Linked DNA regions of Homo sapiens: region 1 is linked to region 2. The links come from fine-mapping of genetic effects on gene expression. A gene starts in region 2. The other region holds a variant in brackets. All regions are shown on one strand. Distances are from middle to middle. Region 1 overlaps LYRM4-AS1 (LYRM4 antisense RNA 1). Region 2 holds the start of LYRM4-AS1 (LYRM4 antisense RNA 1).

Region 1 (2,904 bases), 33 kb after region 2:
CCCACTACCCTTACCCTGGGGGGTCCAGTCCCATTGAACTCTCTGTAGTTGCCTGAAGATGCTTTTCCTGAGGTGCCCTCTCCTCTCCATCTAGTCACCCAGATCCATCCTTTAAGCCTCAGCCCCAGTGATGCCCAGGAAGTCTCTCTGGACCCTCCCCTAGGGCAGCTGAAAATCTTTTCTTCAGTGCCAGGTGACATGCCCTGCACACACCTCTGGCTCAGCGTGCATCGCAGCAGCGGGATCCGTCACACTCTCCTCCACCTCCCCCACCAGCTGCTTCAAGGCAAGGCTCTTTCTCCTTCCTTCCTTCCTTCCCTCCCTCCTTCCCCTCCCCTCCCCTCCTTTCCCTCCCTCCCCTCCCTTCCCCTCCTCCCCTCCCTCCCTCCCCTCCCCTCCCCTCCTTCCTTCCTTCCCTCCCTCCCTCCCCTCCCTTCCCCTCCTCCCCTCCCTCCCTCCCTCCCCTCCCCTCCCCTCTTTCCCTCCCTCCCTCCCCTCCCCTCCCCTCTTTCCCTCCCTCCCTCCCCTCCCCCCCTTCCCTTCCTTCCTTCCTTCCCCCCCCCACATATGTATGTATGTATATTAGTATATGTGTATGCATATAGACATATTTGGGGAGGTGGTGAAAAACAATACTTCAAGATATTTCTTATGTTGCACTTTTATTTCTAAATTAACCTACAGTATCATGCCTATTTAATTGATTTGATGTTGTGTTCTGGAATTTAGCACAGAGCCTGGCCCAAAGAAAGGACAATAAATATTTGCTGATAAAAAGCAAAAAGCTTAACAATTCTATTCATTTTACCTAACTGAAGTTCCTTGTGTCATGAATTTTTAATAAATAGTTTAAAATTAACATGTTAAGAGCATGTTCCCTTAAATATTTTAAGTAATTCCTCTGCCCCCTCTCTTTTTAATTTGAGCTATATCTATAATAAAATTTTGTTGAGCAAAATAAACTCCAGCTTAATCCAAATTGAATAATTAAAAATGTGGAAGAAGTGGTCTGAATTAATGAGTTTTCTCAGTGTAATTCCAGAATATTGAGCCAGAGGAGATCTTAATTTACACGTGTGTTAATTAGGCTCTTCCAGGTTAGCCTAGGAGATAGGAGGGAAAAAACAGAGAGCGCCTCAGCAGGCTGCTGAGGCCTGAAAGGAAGGTTATTCACAGGCAACCTGGGCGTGGTTTCAACAGCAGCTCTGAGATGCAACACCAGCTGCCTCCGCTGAGCTGGCAT[G/C]TGCTGCTCCAGGAGCTGGGGCTGCTGTCATAGAGCCCTGGCCACCTCAGCCCCTGCTTGGCCATGGTTTGTCCTGACTCGTTACTTCTACCACTGCTTTCTCTGCCTGCCGTCTCCTTCTGTCCAGACTAGCGAGTGCTGATGGTCTCTACAGTTTCAAATTCAAATCCCTCTGCAAAGAAAGCATCCGATTGCTTCAGATAGTCACTCTCCTTCCTGCTGGACTGAGATCTTGCATCAATTTCTCTCCTGAGATAAAGGCCTCCCTCTAAATGAGCTTCCCTTCAGCCCAACATCTTCTCCTTGGGCCCGGACAGTGAGAAGACACAGTCCACTTTCTCAGGAGACCTGCGGGCACGGGATACGCTCAAGTTATACCACTGGGAGCTCCTTTCTGAGTCAACAGAAGCAGAAACTGATGCCTGAGAAGTTAGGAGGTCCTTCCTAGGAGGGTGCCCTTCAAAGTCCCCTGTTATCTAGGTCTCTGAAGCACATCACTGCCCCAGTATTGAGAAGTCTTGTCTCTTTAGCTTGTATTTTTTTTTTTTTTTTTTTATTGATCATTCTTGGGTGTTTCTCGCAGAGGGGGATTTGGCAGGGTCATAGGACAATAGTGGAGGGAAGGTCAGCAGATAAACAAGTGAACAAAGGTCTCTGGTTTTCCTAGGCAGAGGACCCTGCGGCCTTCCGCAGTGTTTGTGTCCCTGGGTACTTGAGATTAGGGAGTGGCGATGACTCTTAACGAGCATGCTGCCTTCAAGCATCTGTTTAACAAAGCACATCTTGCACCGCCCTTAATCCATTTAACCCTGAGTGGACACAGCACATGTTTCAGAGAGCACAGGGTTGGGGATAAGGTCACAGATCAACAGGATCCCAAGGCAGAAGAATTTTTCTTAGTACAGAACAAAATGAAAAGTCTCCCATGTCTACTTCTATCCACACAGACCCGGCAACCATCCGATTTCTCAATTTTTTCCCCACCCTTCCCGCCTTTCTATTCCACAAAACCGCCATTGTCATCATGGCCCATCCCCAATGAGCCGCTGGGCACACCTCCCAGACGGGGTCCTGGCCGGGCAGAGGGGCTCCTCACTTCCCAGTAGGGGCGGCCGGGCAGAGGCGCCCCTCACCTCCCGGACGGGGCGGCTGGCCGGGCGGGGGGCTGATCCCCCCACCTCCCTCCCGGACGGGGCGGCCGGCCGGGCAGGGGGCTGACCCCCCCACCTCCCTCCCGGACGGGGCGGCTGGCCGGGCAGAGGGGCTCCTCACTTCCCAGTAGGGGCGGCCGGGCAGAGGCGCCCCTCACCTCCCGGACGGGGCGGCTGGCCGGGCAGGGGGCTGACCCCCCCTCCCCCCTCCCGGACGGGGCGGCTGGCCGGGCAGAGGGGCTCCTCACTTCCCAGTAGGGGCGGCCGGGCAAAGGCGCCCCTCACCTCCCGGACGGGGCCGCTGGCCGGGCGGGGGGCTGACCGCCCCCCACCTCCCTCCCGGACGGGGTGGCTGCCGGGCGGAGACGCTCCTCACTTCCCAGACGGGGTGGCTGCCGGACGGAGGGGCTCCTCACTTCTCAGACGGGGCGGTTGCCAGGCAGAGGGTTTCCTCACTTCTCAGACGGGGCGGCCGGGCAGAGACGCTCCTCACCTCCCAGACAGGGTTGC
Region 2 (2,904 bases):
TCCAGTGTTCATGACCAGGTTTTTCAGTTCTTCCGATAGTATCCCACATTCAGGAATGAGAAATGAAACCTATTGGAATGTGTAATACAAACAAGGTCTTACTTCCATGAAGATGAACACCCAGGTTTTTAGGAATGAAACAAAATCATGAAAGTTGTTATTTCTCCACGAGTTTCACTGGAACATAAAAACACGGGCAACAAAACTCTTATGTTAACTTACCTATCTCAGGCAAAGAGAAATCTGACTACTTAAGTTTTTCATTTCTGCATTCAAACGTACAGTACAGGAAGGGGATTGAACAGAATACTTTTAATGGAAAACTCGTGCTTGCATTTAATCTTTTGCAAATTAGCAATGCTGTATATTTTATGTCCTGTTCCTTTCACTATTTTATTTTCAAGGAAATATAGTATAATTGAATATCCCTTGATTTGTTTACCCTGGTGTTATCCTGGAATGAAACAAACTATCTGTCGGGGCATAAGGAATTAATTTATGGACATCCAATTACTAAGAATCTATGTGCAAGCAATGGTGCTCCTGTATGTTTTCATTTTCGAGACAGAAAAATGCAACAGGCGAGTTAAAGTATACATCCCTGACTGCTGTGATGAGCTTGACATCCAAAATAGGTGTTAAAAACAGGGCAGGCTTCAAATGTTGCCACATTGTAAAAGTCATCACTGTCCCAAGGCTCAAACACCAGCCTGTTCTGACTGATCAGGTCACCACTTAACATCTCTGAAACACTGCTCAGTCAAACCTGAGTTATTAAGCTGATCCATTTAAAGTGTAAAATGTTTAATCCCCCATGATAAGGTTAGTTTCTTGAAGTCTCTCAGATATCAAATTAGTTCCAACAACCAATTTAGAAAATCAGTCGCTTCGGCCGGGCGCGGTGGCTCACGCCTGTAATCCCAGCACTTTGGGAGGCCGAGACGGGCGGATCACGAGGTCAGGAGATCGAGACCATCCTGGCTAACACGGTGAAACCTCGTCTCTACTAAAAATACAAAAATTAGCCGGGCGTGGTGGCGCGCGCCTGTAGACCCAGCTACACGGGAGGCTGAGGCAGGAGAATGGCGTGAACCCGGGAGGCGGAGCCTGCAGTGAGCCGAGATCGCGCCACTGCACTCCAGCCTGGGCGACAGAGCGAAACTCCGTCTAAAAAAAAAAAAAAAAAAAAAAGGAAAATCAGTCGCTTCCTGGGCCGAGCCTAGGCAGGATGCTCTGGTGAGATCCACAGGTACGCAGGTGGGAGAGGGATTCAAGCTGGGGAGGAGGCAGTGGTGGGGAGGAGGCGCGAGACCCGCCCTGATTTGGGGAAAAAGCGAGGTGCACGTGGCTGCCCCACAGCCTAACTCCCTGGTCCCGGCCCTGAACCTCGAATCCCTCCCTGGACTCACTCCCAGTTCGGCGGGTTGACACGAGTGAGCAGCCAGAACGCCCCTGACAACAGCTCCCTCCAGACTGGGTACCGCCCCCACGCCCGGCGCATCCTGGGAGTTGTAGTCCTGTAGCCCTGCAAGCCACTGGCTTAGAGCAGTTAAGAGACTACAACTCCCAGCAAGCCGGGCGAGGGCCCCGCCCCTCCGCGTACCGCCGGCGGCCCCGCCCCGCGAAGCCTAGCACTCTCCCCAAACCTCTCTCGCACGCGGGGACTGAGCACGGCCCGAAAAGCCGAGGACAGCCGGACTCACCCTGTAGTTATAGTAGTGCGTCTGCACAAGATGCCGGTGGCGCGACTTGTGGTTGCCGAAGTTGGATTTCTCGCAAACCAGTAAGTGCCGCGGCGCCTCCCGAAGCCGGCGCAGCGTGGCCATGCTCTCCTGGGTTCCTGGTCCTCCCGGCCTCCGCTGGCGGGGCACGCCCCGCCCCTTCCTCCCGCCCCGCCCCTTCCCTCCGGCCGCATACCCGCTGCTGTGCGCCCCTGGCGGCGGTGGAGTGGGGATGGCGGCGCTGGATTTCTGAGCAGTTCTTAGACTTCTTAGGAGCCCACGCAGCCGCTCTTTGGTGGATGTCTGAAGCTGTAAATTCACTGTCCCAGTGGCTGGGAACCTGGCTCTTGCCTTTTCAACGCCACTTTTCCTCCGTCCCCGCCATCCCTTGGAATTGCCCTAAACCCTCTCTGTGGGCCCCGCCTCGGAGCGCCCCTTGGACCCCAGCCTGGCGCCGGCGCATACCTCGGTCAGGCCCCTCAGAGGGACCGCTTCCTGCCACCGTTATAAAAGGAAAACATCGCATGGAAAGGCCCAGTTCCTTTAGTATATGGTCAAGAAATGTAGCCGCACAGTTAAGTAACCCCCTAAGCTGCTTTGGGGGCCACACCCAGCTGCTTTCTGACTTCTCACACTGTTTGGTTCACAGGACTCTGTTACCCATTGGGGACCTCTTGGCCATTATTAACACAGGCCAACAGGACTAAAAGTTTGTATCAGTCCTTCCCAAAACATTAGGGAAGGTTGTGCGGGAAGGTAAAGCACAATTTTTGCCTTACAATAGGACTCCTTTGAAACTACTATTGAGTTCCCTTTTAAATAGCCCTTCAGAACCGCTTTTAATAATGTGTTGTTTCTGGGGGTTAATAGTGATAATTCTCCTAAGTCATTTTTCCATTTCGTTTTTCTGTCACGGGCTTGGAGCGGTTAAGAGACTGCGGCTCCCAGCATGCGGTACGTTACTGATCAGGGCAAAATCAAGTATGTTACTACATGCTTCTCAAACTAGAGAGGCACAGCCCCAATTCTGCACTGGCAGGATACAAAACAGCAGAATATTGGTGATACATCTTCCTGGAACATCAGTTTTTCTATGAGATGTGGAAGAAATGGAATTAAGTAGTTTACAAGGTAAATAATTAAGAATTTAAAACTAAGCCAGTCACAGTGGGTCATGCCTGTA

The links.
Region 1: its variant is fine-mapped to the expression of LYRM4-AS1 in whole blood (TOPMed, PIP above 0.99).

The regions. Positions count from the first base shown.
Region 1 is chr6:5,035,231-5,038,134 of GRCh38, forward strand. The region is part of intron 2 of LYRM4-AS1 (LYRM4 antisense RNA 1); the gene reads left to right. It also overlaps a transcript of LYRM4 not described here. Among named protein-coding and RNA genes, the nearest start is that of RPP40, 33 kb to the left of the region's middle. The variant G/C (reference allele first, on the strand shown) is at 1,244.
Region 2 is chr6:5,002,177-5,005,080 of GRCh38, forward strand. It overlaps LYRM4-AS1 (LYRM4 antisense RNA 1), which reads left to right and starts at 1,640. Exons shown (of 4, transcript NR_126015.1): 1 at 1,640-1,783. RPP40 (ribonuclease P/MRP subunit p40) reads right to left here and starts at 1,861. Exons shown (of 8, transcript NM_006638.4): 1 at 1,704-1,861; 2 at 1-69. The coding sequence starts at 1,826. RefSeq lists silencers at 1,462-1,711, 1,842-1,971.